Homo sapiens: one gene and its partners. The protein of the gene in region 2 purifies or fractionates together with the protein of the main gene of each other region. This does not show direct contact. Each region holds a gene or a part of one and is shown on either strand. Other genes may lie near its edges.

Region 1 (7,056 bases), on a different chromosome or scaffold from region 2:
TTGTTGGAATGTGGAAAATGACAGCAGGAGTCAACAGAATTACTAAGTGGAAGATGTCCGTGGAGGATGACAGCACAAGATGGACGAAGCCAGGTCCCTGATGATGACAACACTGCCACATCAATCTTGGACTGCCTACCTGGACATTTTCATAAGGAAGCAGCTTCTTTTTATGTTTAAACCACTGATGCATTAGGTTTTCTGTCCCTTGAAAAAGTTTTGTGTATCCCTAATACACCACACCAGACTTCTTCCAGATTCTCTGGACTTTGAACTTTTGTGGATACAATTTCCTCTGCCTGAAACGCTGTTACTACCTCCTGTAACACTATCTGCTTTCACCATTCACCTGTGGGCTGAAATGTTACCTTCTCAGGTAAGTCTTGCTTGAGCCCCAAGTGAGGTTAAATACACTTGCTATTTATTCCTTATACCTTCCCCCTCGGTTAACACTCACCATATCTTATAATTAATGGGTTAATACCTGTCTCTTCCACCACAACTACATACTCTTTAAGAGCAAGTATCTGCTTTGTCCACTGTCATCCAAGTGAGTGGCACTCGATATACGCCCAATAAACATTTGCTCAGTGAACAATAATGCCACAACCCCTGAGTGATTTCTGGACCACACCTCAAGTATTTCTTGACCTTCTATTAAGGGACTCCTATGAACTCTACATAAAGTTCTATTTCTGTCAGAAACTCTCAGAATGTAAACGGTGTTTCTCTCCATTTGCCTTTGCTCAAATCTGCAAAGTGCCATCTCCTTCAACAGTTCTGCATGGTTCTTCCCACTACTACTTCATATTCTCATAATACGCGTAGATACTAGAAAGAAGGTACTATGTGTATTCCTGGGGGGAAAAAAAAAGGAGATCTTTCACTAACTAATATGACTTTTTTTTTTTTTTTTGAGACAGAGTATCGCTCTGAGGCCCAGGCTGGAATGCAGTGGCGTGATCTCAGCTCACTGCAACCTCCGCCTCCTGGGTTCAAGCGGTTGTCCCACCTCAGCCTCCCAAGTAGCTGGGATTACAGGCACCCGCCACCATGCCCAGCTAATTTTTGTATTTTTAGTAGAGGTGGGGTTTCACCACGTTGGCCAGGCTGGTCTTGAATTCCTGACCTCAGATGATCCTCCCGCCTCAGCCTCCCAAAGTGCTGGGATTACAGGCGTGAGCCACTGCGCCCAGCCATGACTATTATTTTTAAGGGTTGGGATGCCTTAAAGGTACTTTTTTCATAAGAAACACACAAACTACATTATCTGAATTCTGGCCATGTACAGGAAGACATTCTTAAAATATTTTAAAAGCCTCTGATTTTAAGGTGAACAGAACCTTTTAAAGGCACTGCAAGTACCCGCTGGTTTACTGCTTTATGTACACACCCTTCGTGGCCACTGAAGATTCTACATGACTGGCTAACTCATTTTCACAAAATAAGTACCTTTTTGGTCATACCGTGGTGTTAAAAGAAATAGGATCCCAGGAAGGAGGTAGTGAGACATTAAAAACAAAAAATAGGGTGCGGGTGGAGGGAGAGAGAGCATCAGGAAGAATACCTAATGGATGCTGGGCTTAATACCTGGGTGATGGGATGCTGTGTGGAGTAAACCACCATGGCACACGTTTACCTATGTAATACATCTGCAAATCCAAATCCTGCACATGTACGCCTGAATTTAAAATAAAAGTTGAAAGAAAGAAAAAAAAAAAAAGCAAGAGATCTAGTTGATAGTCTGTTTTACTAATGATTCACTGGGTAACCCTGGATCAGTCTTCTTAACTCGAAGTGAAGCGCCCAGTAAATAAACTCCCAAAATGCCTTCCAAGGAAAATATTTTGTTGCCAAATCAATTTGCTCTCTTAATGACTTAGCAGACATGATCTTGGTGATTATATGAAGAACTGCATAATTACAAGTATTCACAGGAAACCTGGTATTTGCCTATCAGTTTCGGATCCTATGAAGGTTTAAATGAGTCTAATATATGGTTCTTTAAGGATCTACAAACCAGTATGTATTTTAGAAAAGCTAGTTTTTGCATGAGGAGGATAGGTTTTAGAATGTGAGCCTTTCCAGCATGTTACTACTGTCTTTCCACACTTATTCGGCGCCCACACTGAATTGGGAAGGTGCTGTGTAAAAACCTGGACAGGACAATACAAAAAATGGTTCTCAGCGCCACTCCTCCTATCCTTACATCTCTTTTCTCTCCAAACTGTTCGAGAATCTGATAGAAGATCTCCAGAGTAGCGTCAATCAACTGCACAAAGGTCTGCATTACAACATACAGAGAGAGACATATGGGCTTGTCCAGCTCTTCAGAGCAAGGACGGCCTGATGCAGACTTTCCAGACCTCTAACATAGGTTAAAGAGAAACGAAGCAAACGCCTGGTGAAAAGCTGGAAACACCTCATATGGGTCCCCGCCTGGCCTCTCCAAAGCAAATGCCCACCTCTTCCTTCAGTCCCCTGGGGGCGACCGCCCTGCCCCATCCCCGCAGTCGCCTGCCGGCCCTGACCTCCTCGAACTGCTCGCTAGAGCAGCCGGCGCCGCGAGCCTCCAGCAGCTCCCGGAACTGCTCCAGAGTGACAGACTCTTCGCCGCGGCCCAGCCGCTCTTCCAGCCAGCGAAACAACGCGCCGCGATGCCTCGACACCAGCGACTCGCAGGGGGGTGTGGGCAGCAACGCTGCAGCAGCCTCTCGCAGCCTGGCCGGCTCCAGCAGCGCCGCGGCGGGTGGTAGCGCTGGAGCCGCGACGCCCGGGCCGGGGGTCGTGCCCGAGACCGCGGCCCAGTCCTGGTGTGGGCCCCAGCCCTCGCCACCGGCAGCTGCCGCTTCGTCTTCACTGCTGTGACTCGGAGCGTTCCCCATGGGGTCTCCGTCTTGGGCGCCTGGCTCTGCAGCCGCCGCCGCCGCCTCCCCGCCTCGACCTGTCAACCTCCGACAGCAGCTGGCGGGCGGGGACGCGGAGGAGACGACGGCGGCCCCTGCGGCTTCCGGCTTCCTGGCCGTCAAGCGACGACCGCTGTCGCAAAGGCGCCGTCACGTAGATAGGCGGCCTCTACCAACTCACGACAGCTAGGCGGGGAGCGCCGCCTCAAAGGGTGCAACCTTGATTTCCCAGAGGACGAGTCTGTCTCAGTATCTACGTCATTCCGTAGCCTCCGCTGCCGCCATCTTTGTTGGGGCTGACAACCTGCAAGCCAAGAAGTACGAGAAGGGCCAGGCGCGGTGGCTCACGCCTGTAATCCCAGCACTTTGGGAGGCCGAGACGGGTGGATCACCTGAGGTCAGGAGTTCGAGACCAGCCTGACCAACGTGGTGAAACCCTGTCTCTACTAAATACAAAATATTAGCCGGACGTGGGGGCGCGTGCCTGTAATCCCAGCTACTTGGGAGGCTGAGGCAGGAGAATCGCTTGAACCCGGGAGGCGGAGGTTGCAGTGAGCCGAGATTCCGCCAGTGCACTCCAGCCTGGACAACAAGAGCTAAAACTCTGTCTCAGAAAAAAAAAAAAAAAGTACCTGGAAAAAGTCGCAGACAGCGAGCTTTTCGCCAGTGCCAGGAATACAGATAAAACGAGAGAGACTAAGGGAGGGAGCGCGAGCACTAGCGCGCGAGAGAGAGAGCGAGAGCGCGCGCGCCGATGACGTCACGCTCGGCGTCTCGGCCATCTTAGCTGTAGATAGAGGCGGCAACCTCGGAAGTGCGGAGCGGGTGGGCCTATATAGATGTTGAGGTGCGGAGGCCGTGGGCTTTTGTTGGGCCTGGCTGTAGCCGCAGCAGCGGTAATGGCAGCACGGCTTATGGGCTGGTGGGGTCCCCGCGCTGGCTTTCGCCTTTTCATACCGGAGGAGCTGTCTCGCTACCGCGGCGGCCCAGGGGACCCGGGCCTGTACTTGGCGTTGCTCGGCCGTGTCTACGATGTGTCCTCCGGCCGGAGGCACTACGAGCCTGGGTCCCACTATAGCGGCTTCGCAGGTATCAGCGAGGCTGCTCACGCCTTTCTCTCCGCTGGCGCGAGCCAGTAGCCACCTGCGCGTCGTTCGTTGGTTCATTATTCATCTATTTCCCCCCCCATCCCCACCCCACATCCATCAAACCCGTGCGGTGGGCGGGACGAGCTGCATGCACTATCCTTCTAGGCTCTCTGGCTCTGGCGGGACTGTGGGCCAGCTCTGTCATCCACCACCGCCCTGCGTGACTTACATTGGAGAAACATGTCTTCTGTCTCTTGTTACCCATTACCCAGCGTCGGAAGCCCTAGGATACGGGCTGTGTGCCGGACTTTTGTGGGGGCTCTTAGGGCACAGATAAACGAGATCCCGCCCCGCCCCTACCCTCACAGTTTCCTTAATAATTCCAACCATCTCTTCATTATGCCCTGGTCCCAAATAATCTTTCTTCCCCCCACCCCTAAGCATAGTGTTTTCAAGGTTCATCCATGGTTTATGAGCATGCATCAATACTTTATTCCTTTATGGCCCGTCATATAGTACATTTGGTCTGAGTCATTCCTGCTTCTAGTACAAGATGCACCTGTTTGCCTTCCTTAGAAGGTTAGGGCAGAGGAAAGGGGTCCAGTCACCTTTACAGTCCTTGATACGTAGACCAAAGTTGTGCATATGTTAGGCCTCAAGAAACATTTGTCAAATTAAGTTTATGCTGGTGTCCCTGTGTTACAGCTGAGGGGGTTAAAGGATGCGATTTGCCTGAAACCCTCACACCTGAATACTGACAGAATATGGACTCGGACCACCAGTCTAGTGCTTTTTTTTTAAAGATGGAATCTCGCTGTGTCGCCCAGGCTGGAGTGCAGTGGCCTGATCTCGGCTCACTGCAAGCTCTGCCTCCCGGGTTCACGCCATTCTCCTGTCTCAGCCTCCCGAATAGCTGGGACTACAGGCGCCCACCACCACGCCCGGCTAATTTGTTGAATTTTTAGTAGAGACGGGGTTTCACCATGTTAGCCAGGATGGTCTCGATCTCCTGACCTTATGATCCGCCCACCTTGGCCTCCCAAAGTGCTGGGATTACAGGCGTGAGCCACCACACCCGGCCAGCCTAGTGCTTTTTTACAGATGTTGCCTTGCCAGCCAGCGGGACTGACCTCCAAAATTTAAAAAGAAAAAAAAAGTGCAGGGCAAGCCTAAGATCAGCTACTAGGCTGACATTAAATAAGCATTTTCCACTTGTCATTATCTTAGGGGAATTGGGAAGCTGCCTCTAGCACTTAAAATACAAGCCACTTCCCTCTGTCTAGGAAGTACTAAAGAAATACAAAAGTTGACAGAAAAGGAATGAAGTCCAGTTGGTCTCGCAAATCCCCTGAGATAGTCCAGCAGGGGAAGGGACTTACTCAGGGGTACACAGTGAGTTAGAAGCAGAGCTGGGACTGGAATCAAGGTGTTTTGTCGCTGCTAGTTGAAGGCAGTTTTCGTTGCGCTGCCCTGCTGCGTGCTGTGGGAGCTGTCGTTGGATGTTTGCACAAGTGTGGGCATAAAACCTTCGATGTCTGGAGTGCTTTTTATTTTTCAGTGTGCTCTGCTGTTTACTGAGCTCCCGTGTTCTGGTATTCATTGACCATCTTTATTTACCACTACCTACCTTGTGTCAGGGGCTGTGGAATCCAAGATGTCTGCAACATGCTCCCCACCGCCCACACAGTCTAGTTGGGAAGCAGTTATGTCCACGTATTCGTTCATTCAGTATTTTATTTCTCATTGAGATGTAATTCACGTGATGTAAAGTCCTTTTAACGTATACAATTCAGTGGGGTTTTTTGTTGTTTAGAGACAGGGTCTGCCTCTGTCACCCAGGCTGGCGTGCAGTGGCATGATCTTGGCTCACTGCAACCTCCGCCTCCCAAGCTCAAGCAATCCTTCCACTTCAGCCTCCCAAGTAGCGGGGACCATAGGTGTGCACCATCACGTGCAGCTAATTTTTGTATTTTTTGTAGAGATGGGTTTTCGCCATGTTGGCCAGGCCGGTCTTGAACTCCTGAGCTCAAGTGATTCAGCCGCTGAAAGTGTTGGGATTACAGGTGTGAGCCACTGCCCCCAACCTTTTTATTTATTTATTTTTATTTTTCGAGATAAACTGGTTCTTTAGCCCAGGCTGGAGTGCGGTGGCGCAATCTTGGCTTACTGCAACCTCTGCCTCCCGGGTTCAATATTCTTGTGCCCCAGCCTCCCGAGGAGCTAGGATTACAGGCGTGTGCCACCATGTCTGGCTAATTTTTTTTATTTTTAATAGAGATGGGGTTTTGCCATGTTGGCCAGGCTGGACAGGAAATCCTGGCCTCATGTGATCCACCTGCCTAGGTCTCACACAGTGCTGGGATTATAGGTATGAGCCAAAATTCAGTGTTTTTTTTGTTTTTTTGAGATGGAGTCTCACTCTGTCGCCCAGGCTAGAGTGCAGTGGCGCAATCTTGGCTCACTGCAAGCTCCGCCTCCTGAGTTCATGCCATTTTCCTGCCTCAGCCTCCCGAGTAGCTGGGACTACAGGCGTCCACCACCACACCTGGCTAAGTTTTTGTATTTTTAGTAGAGACGGGGTTTCACTGTGTTAGCCAGGATGGTCTCGATCTCCTGACCTCGTGATCTGCCTACCTCAGCCTCCCAAAGTGCTGGGATTACAGGCCTGAGCCACCGCGCCTGGCCCGGTGGGTTTTTTTTTTTAGTATAGCCAGAAATTTGTAAAAATGTCACCACTAACTCTAGAACATTCTTCTCACCCCAGAAAGAAACTTCTTATCTATTAGCAGTCACTCCTTATTCCTTCCTTTGCCAACCACTATCTACTTTCTTTTCCTGTCGATTGGCCTATTGTGGGCATTTCATGGAGTCATACGTGTGGCCTTTTGTGTCTGGCTTCTTTCACCTAGCATCATGTTTTAAGGGTTCATCCATGGTGTACCAGCATGTAGCAGTGCATTATTCCTTTATGGCTGAAAATATTCTATAGATACTATAATTCTAATAATATGGATATACCACATTTTATCTATCAGTTGATGGATTTTTGGTTTCTTTCTACT
Region 2 (7,027 bases):
GAAACCGTAGGAATGCTACGAAAAGTTCAAGCAAGAGATGGAAGCCTGCACTACCAACCACGAGACAGAAGCCTGCACTATCCACAAAGTAAAACGGCAACCCAAAGAATAACAGAAAATATTTTCAAGTCCTTCTGTTCATTTTTGAATTAGGTTGTTTTTTGTTATTGAGTTCTAGGAGTTCTCTATATTTTCTGGATATGAATCTTCTGTCAAATATATGATTTGAAAATATTTTCTCCAAAGAAGACATACAAATGGCCAATAATTGCAAATGAAAAGATGTTCAACACTAATAATCATCAGGTAAATGCAAATCAAAAATACAATGAGACACCACCTCACGGCCATTACAGAAAATAACAGATGTCGGTTTGGAAGCAGAGAAACTGGAACTCTCGTATACTGCTTGTGGGAAGGTAAAACGGTGCAGCAGCTCTGCAGAACAGTTTAGTGGTTCCTCAAGAAGTTAAATATACAATTCACATACGGTCTAGCATTCCATTTCTGAGTATATGCCCAAAAGAATTTAAAGCAGAGTCTTGAAGAGGTATCTGTACACCCATGTTCGCAGCAGCATAACTGGCAATAGCCAAAAGCTGGAGGCAACACATGTGTTCACTGATGAATGAATGGATACACAAAATGTGATCCAGACAGGCAACAGACAATCATTCACCCTTAAAGAAATTCGAACACATGCTTACAATATGGATGAACCTTGAAGACCTTACGCTAGGTGAAATAAGCCAGTCACAAAAAGACAAAGACTGATTCCATTTACATGAGGCACTTGGAGTCATCAAATTCATAGAGACAGAAAGCGGAATGCGGTTGCCGGGGCTGGGGGAGGGCGGAAATGAGGAGTTATTGTTTCACGGGTGTAGAGTTTCAGTTGTGCAAGATGAAAAGTGTTCTGGACATGGATGGTGGTGATGGCTGCACAAAAAGATGAATGTACTTAATACCACTCAGCATTTTTAAATGGTTAAGATGGTACATTTTATGTTTTGTGTATTTTACCACAATAAGAAGAAAAAAGAGGCCGGGCGCAGTGGCTCACGCCTGTAATCCCAGCACTTTGGGAGGCTGAGGCAGGTGGATCACGAGGTCAGGAGTTCAAGACCAGCCTGCCCAACTTGGTGAAACCGTGTCTCTACTAAAAATACAAAAAAATTATCCGGGCGTGGTGGCGCATTCCTGCACAGTGCCTACATTAAGTGCACAGGCGGGGGATTAGCCTTGTACAGGGAACATATCATCCAGAGAGGAGGAAAGAAGGTCGGGATGGAACAATGATGCTACGTTAAGTGCACAGGCGGGGATTAGCCTTGTACAGGGAGTATATCATCCAGAGAGGAGGAAAGAAGGTCAGGATGGGAACAATGATGATAGGTCTGAGAGTAGGAATTTGAGGGGATACAAAACAGTGCTCTCAATTATTTTAGTGAGGTAGGAGTTGGGATAATTTACAGATAGGGAAGACAGCTGCAGTTGGGTAGATTTTGAAGAAAGCCACTGAGAGGAGATAAGAGGCAAGACTAACGAAAAGGAAAAGAATCAGCAAGTGATGCTAACATTCCACAGAGGGGGAAACGGGAACTTGCTGCTACCATCTGTTCAGCAGTGGGATTTCCCCCAGGAGTGCCTGGTGTCAAGGAGATGAAAGCTAATGACCCAAGGCCTGAGCCAGGGTTGGGATCTGTAAGCCAAACGGTAGAAAATGAGGCAGTCCTATTGTTGGGGATGCTGGACACACAGAAATTCACTTGATCCCCCGTCGGAATCCAGGGTATGTGGAAGAGGAAGTGAAACTGGGGGCAGAGGAGGCACAAAGGAAAAGATAACAGAGGAGAAAAATGGAGGAAGAAGAATATTTGAGATTTCTGGAAGTGAAGAGAACACAATTTCTGGAGCTAAATGGCTGGGTTCTCATCCCAGCTGGGCCATGTACTACCTGGAGAAACTTGGGCAAGTTTCTTAGCCTCTGTGTGCCTCAGTTCTCTGATGTGTAAAATGGAGATAATAATAATACCTACATTCAAGGGGTGTTTGAAAAGATTGAATAATCTAATTTACATAAAGAACTTAAAAGAGTATCTGAAACATAGTGCCCTGTCAAGTGTTAGATGATACCGTCATTGCACAAAGAAAAATATTATTTTAGTGTCTTAATACAAAAGAAATTACCTGTTTTTGTGTTGGGCCTTGTTTTGAAAAATAGCCAAAGGAGAAGAACCATGGGAACTAAAGGGAAAAAAAAACCGTCAGTGATATTTTTTTAAAACTCATGGAAAATACTTCTAATAAAAATAATCTAATTTCATAAAATCTTACTTACTTTTATGAGAAGTTGCCTTCCAATTCCAAACCTCACAAAGAACAAAAAGAAAAGTCCTGCAAACATCAGCTTAATAACAGAGGTGATGCCTCCCACAGTTACATACGCAGCATACTGAACCTAGATGATGGAGAAGACAAAGTTAGAACATTACTCCCTACATTTTGGACCAAGTAAGAATGTTAGTTACTTGTACCTTTCTCTTCCATCACAAATGTGGAACAAAAGCAGTTTCCACTTTACAAATGCATTATGTTCTGAAATCTTGTTCAGAAACCAGACATTGGGAGCCTATTTTTTGTTTGTTTTGTCAGACCTGGTGAACAGGAAGTATGATAGTCTACTTTTTAAAGAAAATTGTTTATAAATAGTAATTAGCTTCCCCTACTTGGGCACAAAAATCTACATAATCCCTAATATATCTGAGCTTAGCAATCATACATTACAGAACGTAGACTCCTATAAGAAAATGCCCTCCACCTTTTAACTTGAAATATAATTTCCTCCTGAAGTCTCGGCAATGAAAGCAATTACTTTCCTCGCCAAAAGCAGCAGGATGGAACTCCAGGCGTGGCAAGGAGAGAGGGGACAGAAAGGGTTCCAGACATTTCCACAAGCAAAAGAGTTTCTAGCAACTGAAACCCTAAACAGGGATTCTGGGGTGCTTATGACAGCAGGATTTCCCGTATTGAATTTGCTGCTATTGTGTTACATTAAAAAGATATTCAGCAGCCAGATCTGAATCAAAAGACAAGGTTATAAAATACAAAATGTTCTACCCTAATGATTCTGTGTATTTCCAGAGGCTGAAACATGTATTACTTAGCTCTTCCTTTTTCTGCCTTATAAACAAAAATATCCCACACTGAATAGAAAGAGGAACTGTAACACACACTTTATTGATAAATAAACCATATATACTTACTGGTGATTCCTCTAAATTTTCATACAAGTAACGTTGAGTCCTCCTTACAACAGACACATCAGATCCCATAAAAGGAATGGAATAACCTTTGAGTTCCCGACAATAAGAAATTGGCCACCTGCAAGACAGACCTATGAATATTTTGCATTTCCTGCAATTACAACTTTGGCTGGTAAATGTCTGAATAAGCAAATCAGTGGCAGGGCATGGTGGCTCATGCCTGTAATCCCAGCACTTTGGGAGGCCGAGGCAGGAGGATCACTTAAGGCCAGGACTTTGAGACCAACTTGGGCAACAAAGAGAGACTCTGTCTCAAAAGAAAAAAAAAACCAGAACGCTCCTTTCAACAGCCCAACCCTAAATTCTTACCTCTAAACTTCTCACATATGTCCTGCAGTATAAAACTAAACTAAAATAAATTTTTAAAAAAGAAAAAAAGTTCTCACATAAAATTTAGTTGACAGTTAATTTCTATATTGATAGTGAAAAGTCATCATAAGATTCACTTATTTCCTAGGATTCACATGTTTTATTACACACGAAGTACTTAAGCTTATGGTAATGGATTAATTATGTCTTATTTATCTTAAGCTTATGGTAATGGATTAATTATATCTTATTTATCTCAAGCATATGGTAATGGATTAATTATATCTTATTTATCTGTGAAAACAATTCTGAACTTACTACAAATTAGTCTCCAAGCTTTTCTTAGTAACATACTTTATTAATAGCCAACCCAACAACAATATACTTAGACTAGATATATAAAAAATGGATTTTAAGTTAATTTACCTTCTCTTCAATTTTGGACCAATGAGCGGGACAGGTTTCAGATTTGATACATTTCTTAGTTTTCTCAAATTACTCTGATCTCCAAAACCATAAATTGCTGACTTCCAGGTACCATCATGAATGCTCAACCCCTAATAAAATATTTCAAGAGTTAAAGAAACATGAAAGGGTAGTTACTAAAATGTAAAGCCAAGTAACTTATCATTGTTACAAACAATATTTCACTTATATTTGGACAAGACATAATCCCTGATTTAATAATCTTGAGGAGAATTTTCATGACCAGCTAGGGAGCAGTCACATTCATTAGCTTGATCATACCCAATATTTACACCGAGAAGCCCTTTCTTCTCCCCTCCTATCATTCTTTATATTCTGTAATAAGTTATTTAGTTTTACTTCATCAATTTTACTCAACTAATTGACCATATTCCTTCAAGATCAGCCACTCTAATCCTTTTTTTTCTGCCCCATATGATCTGCAGGAATAGCCACCCTAATCCTCTCTCGATCCTACACAAATTCCTCAACATTTCTGGATATGTCCGTGTGCACATTTATGCATACATACACTGTGTACTGTCCATCTCTCCATCCTGTTACACCTGGTTCCCCGTCTACCTCCAACACCTCTTACTCTAGCCCCAAGTTATAGATCTGTCTTCCTACTGAAGTCTTAGTAAAATAATTGTTTAAAACATTTAAAGTTCACTAATAATGATTTGTATTTTAATTGCTTTCCTCAATCCCTTGATTTCTTTTTGGTATCACAGCCAGTACAGAGTCCTTAGTATTTGCCTGATCTTACTCAGACTCTCATTTATTCACTGATTTTTCATCCTTTCATGAGACTTTGGGCTGTCAGTGCCTTCCATTCTACCAATACTCTTTACAGCTTCCCCAACCCTTACCTCTAGCGCCACCGAGAAACGAGTGGCTGAGACCCCAGGAGAGGACACGACCTCTGAATTTACTATCACAGCGCTGGCCCTTTTTTTTTTTTTTTTTTTTTGAGACAGAGTCTTGCTCTTGTCACCCAGACGGGAGTGCAATGGCACGATCTCAGCTCACTGCAACCTCTGCCTCCTAGGTTCAAGCAATTCTCCTGTCTCAACCTCCCGAGTAGCTGGGATTACAGGTGCCCACCACCATGCCTGGCTAATTTTTGTATTTTTAGTAAAGACGGGGTTTCACCATGTTGGCCAGGCTGGTCTCGAACTTCTGACCTCAGGCAAGCCGCCCGCCTTGGCCTCCCAAAGTGCTGGGATTGCAGGCATGAGCCACCGCGCCCGGCCTAGCACTGACCTTTCTTTCCCAACCTCTAGGTGGGCCTTTTAATTCTCTATTACAGGAATAAACTTCATTTATTATATTGATTGTACATAATTGTATTATGTCCTTCCTTCTATGTTGTTTACATTGTTTAGGTCAACAGAGTAATTCAGAAAGATTCAAAACTAATTCTGTCACAAGATTTTCAAAGAGGGATATGTGGGAGGCAGATATGAAGGTACCTTTCATTGTTAATAAACAAAATAAGAGAAACAATAAAACCATCCAAAGATTCAGGTTTTCCTATCTCAGCTTTGATGATACTGAAAAGCAGAGATACCAAATCTAACTTTCATTCTGGTACAGATTTATTTCTTCTGTTTTATTAAAACTACAACAGAACTAAAGTCTTAAAGGTTTGATTTGTTATCTACTCAATCTGAGCCTAGCCAAAAGGGCCTATGTGAATCTCTACAAATGTAAAGATTCCAAACACCAGGAGAAAACAGCTTTTTAAAAATCTAAACATATTTTCTTATACAACTAAGCCATTGAAAAGGAAAAAATTACATTCAATTTAAAAAACTATTTGCGTTTCACAGAAAAATATAGAGACGTACCTAATACAATTTTATTAAATTGTATATTCATGTATGTTATGAAGCCAACGTACATGTAAACATCCAGGTCAAGAACTACAGGTAACCAGCAACTAAGAAGGCCCTCCTTCCGTCCTGCCTTTACAGTAATCAAGAAAAATTCTTTTCTTTAGAGTTTAATCACCTAAGAATTCATCCCTAAACAGTACAATTAGTTTTGCCTGTTTCTAAGCTCTACAGAAATGCAATCAAGCAAGATTTATTACTGAGTGTTTGGCTTCTTATGCTCAAAATTGTGATGTCAGGATTTACCACGTGTTGTAAGTAACTCCTACATTGCAGCTAGCCTTTTGACTTTCTTAATCGTGTGTTTTGGGAAACATTCTCAATTTTAAAAGTACACAAACGTATCACTTTTTCATTACATTTAATGCCTCTTTGTCTTTTTGTAAAAGCCATTCCCAACCGTGAGGGCATCCACAATCCATCTAAACTTGATTTTGGTACGGGGTGCAAAAGTATGAATCCAATTCCATTTTTTCTCCAAGTAGATACTCAATTGTCCCAGCAGCATCTACCGAAAAGCCCCCTTGCTGTTCCTGCCAACTTGAAGCCCGGAGGCCTGCTGGGAGGAGGAATTCTAAATGACAAGTATGCCTGGAAAGCTGTGGTCCAAGGCCGTTTTTGCCGTCAGCAGGATCTCCAGAACCAAAGGGAGGACACAGCTCTTCTTAAAACTGAAGGTATTTATGGCTGACATAAAATGAGATTTGATTTGGGCAGGAAATGCGCTTATGTGTACAAAGAATAATACTGACTCCTGGCAGCAAACCAAACAAAACCAGAGTAAGGTGGAGAAAGGTAACGTGTGCCCACGGAAACAGTGGCACAATGTGTGCCTAATTCCAAAGCAGCCGTCCTGCTTAGGCCACTAGTCACGGCGGCTCTGTGATGCTGTACTCCTCAAGGATTTGAACTAATGAAAAGTAAATAAATACCAGTAAAAGTGGATTTGTAAAAAGAAAAGAAAAATGATAGGAAAAGCCCCTTTACCATATGTCAAGGGTTTATGCTGACTTAATAACAGGTCTTGAT
Region 3 (7,027 bases), on a different chromosome or scaffold from region 2:
GATAGGAGAGTGGAGAGTAGCTAAGACAAGAAGCGACAGTTTCCTCTTTCACACTAGAATATCCTGTTGTGCTCTGTAGCATCAGACATCGATGAGTCATCAGTGATGCAGCTGGCCGAGATGGGTTTCCCGCTGGAAGCATGTCGCAAGGCTGTGTACTTCACTGGAAATATGGGCGCCGAGGTGGCCTTCAACTGGATCATTGTTCACATGGAAGAGCCAGGTAGGTGGCGAGAAAATGGAATGGCTTTGGAGTCTGATGTGACCCTCAGTGATGCTGAGTCCTGGTCCTTCCAAGGTCCCTGTGGATGTATCCCTAGAAAATGACTTTATAGTTCCTAATCTCCTGCAGTGGAGGAGAAAGCCAGTCTTTTTCTTCTTCTTTTTTTTTTTAAAAACAGCAGCTTTAGGCCAGGCGTGGGGGCTCATGCCTGTAATCCCAGCACTTTGGGAGGCCAAGGCAGGCGGATCACGAAGTCAAGAGATGAAGACCATCCTGGCCAACATAGTGAAACCCCATCTCTACTAAAGATACAAAAATTAGCTGGGCATGGTGGTGCGTACCTGTAGTCCCAGCTACTCAGGAGGCTGAGGCAGGAGAATCGCTTGAACGCAGGAGGCGGAGGCTGCAGTGAGCCAAGATTGCACCACTGCACTCTGGCCTGAGTGACAGAGCGAGACTCTGTCTCAAAAAAACAAACAAACAAAAAAACAACAAAAAAAACCCCAAACAGCTTTATTGAGATATAATTCATCCCTTTAAAGTGTATAAGTCAGTGGCAAAAAGACCAATAGAAAGATACGGGATATACTTCTAACTAAGCGATGATGAAAATTTGAAATGGAAACATGGGCATGAAGAAATGGAGGATGTTTAGTTAGCTTTTTCTTTTATCTACTTTATTAAGCTATAATGCATATATTCATCTGTTTAAAGTGTACATTTCAATGGTTTTTCATAAATTCACAGTTGTGTAACCATTACCACTATCAAATTTTAGAACATTTTGTACCCTTCAAAAGAAATCTCATACATAATAGCAGTCACTCCCCATTTTCCTGCTCACCCCAGCCCCTGGCAACCACGAATCTGTTTTCTGGATCAAGGGATTTGCCTGTTTTGGACATTTCATATAAATGGAGTCATATAATAAAAGGTCGTTTGTGTTTGGTTTCTATCACTTAGCATAGTGCTTTCAAGATTCATCTATGTTGTAGCATGTGTCAGTACTTCATTCCTTTTTACGGTAAAATAATAGTCTGTTGGGTCGGGTTTGGTGGCTTACGCCTGTAATCCCAGCACTTTGGAAGGCCAAGGCAGGAGGATCATTTGAGGTCAAGAGTTCAAGACCAGCCTGGCCAACATGGTGAAACCCCATCTCTATTAAAAATGCAAAAATTGTCTGGGCATGGTGGCGGGCACCTGGAGTCTCAGCTACTTGGGAGACTGAGGCAGGAGAATTGCTTGAGCCCAGGAGACGGAGGTTGCAGTGAGCTGAGATCACGCCACTGCCCTCCAGCCTGGGCAACAGAGTGAGACTCCATCTAAAATAATAATAATAATAACAATAATAATAGTCTATTTTATGGGTATACTATATTTTATTAATCTTTATCAGTTCATGGACATTTGGGTTATTTACATTTTTTGGCTTTTATGAACAATGCTGCTATAAACATTTTTTACAAGTTTTTGTGTGGATGGACATTTATTTTTACTTCTCTTGAGTGGAATTGCCATGTCATATGGTAACTCTATATTTAATTTTGAGGAACGACCAAACTGTTTTACACAGTGGCTGAACCATTTTACATTTCCACCAGTAATGAATGTGAGTTCCAATTTCTCCATATCATCACTAACCCTTATTATTATCTTTTTTATCATACCCATCCCAGTGGGTATGAAGTGGTATCTTGTGGTTTTGGTTTGCATTTTCCTAATGACTAATGATGTTGAACAACTTTTCGTATGTTTATTGACTGTATATCTTATTTGGAGATATGTCTATTCAAATTCTTTGCCCATTTCTAATGAAGTTATCCTTTTATTATTGAGTTCTAAGAGTTCTTTACAAATTCCAGATACGAGTTTCTATGAGATATATGATTTGTGTTTTCCCCCCCATTCTGGTGTTTTTTCACTTTCTTGATGGTATCCTTTGAAGCACAAACATTTTTAATTTTGATGATGTCCAATTTATCTTTTTTTTCTTTTATCACTTGTGCTTTTTGTGTTGTAAATAAGAAACCATTGCCTAATCCAATGGCAAAGACTTACTCCTGTGTTTTCTTCTAAGATTATTATAGTTTTAGCTCCTATATTTAGGTCAATGAGCCATTTTGAGTTAATTTTGTGTATGATGTGAGGTGAGGGTCTGACTTTATTCTTTTGTATGTGGATATCCAGTTGTCCCAGCATCATTTGTTGAAAATAATGTCCTTTCCCCACTGAATGGTCTTGTTGAAAATCAGTTAACCACAGGTATATGGTTTTATTTCTGGAATCTCAATTCTATTTAATCGATCCATATGTCTGCCTATATACCAGTACCAGACTGTCTTTTTTTTTGAGACAGAGCCTTGCTCTCTTGCCCAGGCTGGAGTGCAGTGGTGCAATCTCAGCTCACTGCAACCTCCGCCTCTTGGGTTCAAGCGATTCTTGTGCCTCAGCCTCCCAAGTAGCTGGATTACAGGTGTGCACCACCATGCCCTGCTAATTTTTGTATTTTTAGTAGAGACAGGATTTTGCCATGTTGGCCAGGCTGGCCACGAACTCCTGACCTCAGGCGATCCACTCGCCTTGGCCTCCCAAAGTGCTGGGATTACAGGCATGAGCCACTGCGCCTGGCCCAGACTGTCTTGATTATTATAACTTTGTAGAATCATGTTTTTCCTTGTTAGTGTTGTTTCAGGACAAAAAAAAAAAAAAAAAAAGGAAAAGACTTGGGTGTGGTTATTTTTCTCAGATTTTGCTGAGCCGCTGACCATGCCTGGTTATGGAGGGGCAGCTTCTGCTGGAGCCTCTGTTTTTGGTGCTTCTGGACTGGATAACCAACCTCCAGAGGAAATCGTAGCTATCATCACCTCCATGGGATTTCAGCGAAATCAGGCTATTCAGGCACTACGAGCAACGGTGAGCATGAGAGACTGTGTGTGTGTGTGTGTGTGTGTGTGTGTGTGAATTTATTTCTGTAGCAGTTGAGACTTTCCAATGTACTTTGATCATTTTGATTCATGTTTGATTCATCTAACTGTGAATCTCATCATAGCCCATAAAGATTTATTTGCATATTATAAATATAAAGCTAAAATGAATGATTTTCACACAGCGAATGAGATAAATAAATCTGGGGTAATATGAGCAAACTGAAAGAAACTTGATATCATCTTGAATGTTTGTTAACAGGGGGTCAGAAATTTGACTTGGAGGCTGCTTGTGGCCCTAGAGGAAAGAGGGATGCATGAAATTCCATGTTCAGTAAGAAGTCCTTTAGGAGATAGAATGCTTTTCTGATACCAAGACCTTGGGTAAATGTCTCTTAAAAGTCCTCATAGAAAACTGAATGGCTCCTTGGAATTCTCTGCTGCTGTTTCTCTCTGCAGAAAGAGAAGGTTCTTCTGGTAGCCATGAACTTCTTGATACCAAGAAACAAGGGACTCTGAAACTACAGGGTAGACAATTCCCTTCTGCAGTGCTGATATCTGTTTAATCTTGAGGGAAGGTACTTAAAAAACAAAACAAAACCCATCCTTCCTGGTCACACCATAATCCATTTTTGAGTAGATATCTGCTCTCAATTACTTCTTGCCTATCCTGATGGGGTGCCTGCTAGGATCCGTTGCTGAGGTCACAGTGGCTCTTGATTGTCTCATGAGGATGTGGCTAGGACAACCTGTCTCCCTTTAAGATGATTAAAATATCTCAACCAGAGTTTGTTTTACTTGGGGTACTTTCTTGTGCTCCACTCATTTTATTTGCCTGACTGTTTCATTAGAGGTTTTATATCTATACAAATTCTTTAACCTGCCAGAAATATCACAAGCTGAGAAAGATGGAAATATTTTTATGGTCAATTAGTTTGAAGTACATGGAGTTCAGTTTAAACAATTATACTTAACTAATCAGTGTTGTTGTCATTAATCAAGATATTAATCTTGTCTTTACTGGAATTCAAACATTTTACCAACATTCCAGGAGAGAAGGCTCTAACATAATACCACACTGGCATCCCTCTATTGTTCAGTTATCTGCAGAAAATACAGTTGGTAGAGAAGGTAGTGTGTGCAATTAAAGTGGCTTTAGAAAGAGCTGCACTTAAACAAATGCCATACCCTTGGTTATTCCACACCTATTATTATCAGCATCTTCCTGCAGAAAAGCTGAGCTAACATTGATATAAACTTTGGAATGCTGATCTGCTGCTTAGAACTCTTTTCCAGTGAATCCAATTACAGATGTCAGCTGGGAGACTTGCAGAATGCCATGCCAACTGAACGTGCCTGTCATGCGGAGTCAGAGCTTCTTACTCAGTGGCACTTAGGACTAATTAATTCAGACCTCCTTCCCTATCTGCCTGACATCTAGTTGAAATGGTCAGGACATAGTGAGGCCTGAGGCTGCATGCATTGTAAAAACATCTGTTTCTTTTTTGTTGTTAGAATAATAACCTGGAAAGAGCACTGGATTGGATCTTTAGCCACCCTGAGTTTGAAGAAGACAGTGATTTTGTGATTGAGATGGAGAATAATGCCAATGCAAACATTATTTCTGAGGCCAAGCCCGAAGGACCTAGAGTCAAGGATGGATCTGGAAGTAAGTTCTTGCCTTAGAGGCTGTCTGAGCAGTCAGAACTATACGTTCAGCTCATGCCCTTCCCTCCCACCACAACATAGTCAAGCCTTTGCCATCATTCAAAAGTTAGCACAGATCCCATCTTCTTCGTTTTTTTTTTTTTTCTTTTTTGAGACAGAGTCTCACACTGTTGCCAGGCTGGTGTGCTGTGGCGCGATCTCGGCTCACTGCAACCTCCGCCTCCCAGGTTCAAGCCATTCTCCTGCTTCAGCCTCCCGAGTAGCTGGGATTACAGGCATGTGCCACCACACCCAGCTAATTTTTGTATTTTTAGTAGAGACGGGGATTCACCATGTTGGCCTGGCTGGTCTTGATCTCCTGACCTCGTGATATGCCTGTCTCGGCCTCCCAAAGTGCTGGGATTACAGGCATGAGCCACCATGCCTGGCCAGATCCCATCTTCTTAGAAATGGTGCAGTTTGCCACTTTGCATAGGCCCCGGTGATCTGATAAAGTCATGTCAGAATCATGTTGCTTGGTCATGTTTGTGCCCAAGTTTAGGGCCAACTTTGATTTTGTCTGTTCCTTTGAGGTAAAATTTCTTCATGGACCATGGGAGCTTTTGTCAAAAAGAGAACATTTGTTTTCATGGTAGTGTTTTTTGAGTAGTAGCAAAGTGGTCTCATCCTTGATCATATCGTTACCCGTACCAACTACTAATAATATCCTGAAGGGGTGTCTCAGGATGACAGGAAGAGGCGCCATAGGCCGTTGTTCTGCCTTTTAATAGCAAACACTTATGTATGTCACTATGTGCCAGGCACTGTTCTAAGCACTTTGCATATCAACACTCATGTAATTCTCACTACAACTGATTTTACAGGTGAGAAAATATAAGCATAGAGAGCTTGGGTACCTTGCCAAAGGCCACACAGCTCTTAAGAGATGGAGCCAAGATTCAAACCCAGAATCCTTGTTCTTAACCTTTGTGATATCCTGTTTCTTGGGCTGTCATTGCCTGTAGAATAACATTCAGGCTCTTTAGCTTGGCATTCAGCACCTCCTCCAGTCAGATCCAGGCCACCTGGTCTCCCAGTGTCACTTCTATACTCCCTATACCTGCAGCTGAGATGCCTGGGACTGTAGCCACACTCTTAGCCTACTCAGCTGTCAACAACTCTCTTCTCACTTAACCTGCAGACTCAGGTTAACCCCTATTTGTGAAATGAGCCTTCTCTCCCATCACTGCACACTAAAATTCTCATCATTATTTAGAACTTGGCCACAGATTCCATTTCTCTGGACTGCCTTCCTAGATCCTTGTCATAATCAGCTCATGCTTACCTCATATGCTAGCAATAATTATACCAGTATGAAAAATACTCCCATTTGTGCCATCTTTAATCCTCACAGTAACCTTATGAGGTACATACCATTATTATCCCCATTTTACAGGTGAAGAACCTGAGATAGAGAAGGCTAAGTAATAGCTTGTCAAGGTCTCATAGCTAGTGATGGATAGAACCACAATTCCAGTGCAGGCAGTCTGCCTCCAGAGCCTGTGCCTGTAGCCACTGTAATGCATTGTTAGTTTTTTTTGGTTTTTTTTTTTTTTGAGACAGAGTCTCACTCCATCACCCAGGCTGGAGTGCAGTGGCACGATCTTGGCTCACTGCAACCTCCACCTCCCAGGTTCAAGCGATTCTCCTGCTTCAGCCTCCCGAGTAGCTGGAATTACAGGTTTGGGCCACCACGCTCCCTTGTTAGTTCTTCTGTTGTTGGAGGTATCAAGTTGATCTTGCAATAAAATTACTTCTGTAGGTATTTGTGTCTCCCATTTGACTAGGAGCTTGCCCAGGGCAGAGGCCATTTGGCTTTTATAAAACTCATGGTGTCTAGCATGGTGCTAGACACATAGAAAGTACTGAGTAAATAACAGTTGTATTTAACTAAATCTACACTAGCAGCATTTGTTCCTATAATCATATAGTGGCAGATTTACTCATTAATGTTCTTTCCAGACCTAACATGTACGTATTCATATACAGATAGAAAGAGACGGTGGGAGGGAACTGTCTTCTTCTTTTTTTTAATATAAAATAGGAATTTCATCACTGAAACTGTTTCAATGCCAACTGGATAAGAAAGGATGAGATGTCGTTCTCCCAATTTCCATACTCATTTAAAGTATCTGGTATTACTTTTCAGAAATTACTAGCTTGCCTAAAATAT

What was found. The genes of interacting proteins can lie anywhere in the genome.
Region 1: the proteins of SCCPDH (region 2) and ZZEF1 purify together in Homo sapiens (affinity purification with mass spectrometry; 2 studies listed by BioGRID and IntAct, with this or other methods). This does not show direct contact.
Region 3: the proteins of SCCPDH (region 2) and USP13 purify together in Homo sapiens (affinity purification with mass spectrometry; 4 studies listed by BioGRID and IntAct, with this or other methods). This does not show direct contact.

What each region holds. Positions count from the first base shown.
Region 1 is NC_000017.11:4,140,011-4,147,066, forward strand, and holds the start of ZZEF1 (zinc finger ZZ-type and EF-hand domain-containing protein 1), read right to left. Parts: upstream 3,021-7,056; 5' UTR 2,886-3,020; coding exon 2,532-2,885; intron 1-2,531. Other genes in the region: CYB5D2 (neuferricin isoform 1 precursor), read left to right, coding at 3,746-3,995. UniProt on the Homo sapiens protein: Histone H3 reader which may act as a transcriptional coactivator for KLF6 and KLF9 transcription factors.
Region 2 is NC_000001.11:246,755,391-246,762,417, reverse strand, and holds part of SCCPDH (saccharopine dehydrogenase-like oxidoreductase), read right to left. Parts: intron 4,193-7,027; coding exon 4,062-4,192; intron 3,385-4,061; coding exon 3,267-3,384; intron 2,462-3,266; coding exon 2,342-2,461; intron 2,248-2,341; coding exon 2,191-2,247; intron 1-2,190.
Region 3 is NC_000003.12:179,761,033-179,768,059, forward strand, and holds part of USP13 (ubiquitin carboxyl-terminal hydrolase 13), read left to right. Parts: intron 1-79; coding exon 80-223; intron 224-2,969; coding exon 2,970-3,136; intron 3,137-4,662; coding exon 4,663-4,816; intron 4,817-7,027. UniProt on the Homo sapiens protein: Deubiquitinase that mediates deubiquitination of target proteins such as BECN1, MITF, SKP2 and USP10 and is involved in various processes such as autophagy, endoplasmic reticulum-associated degradation (ERAD), cell cycle progression or DNA damage response.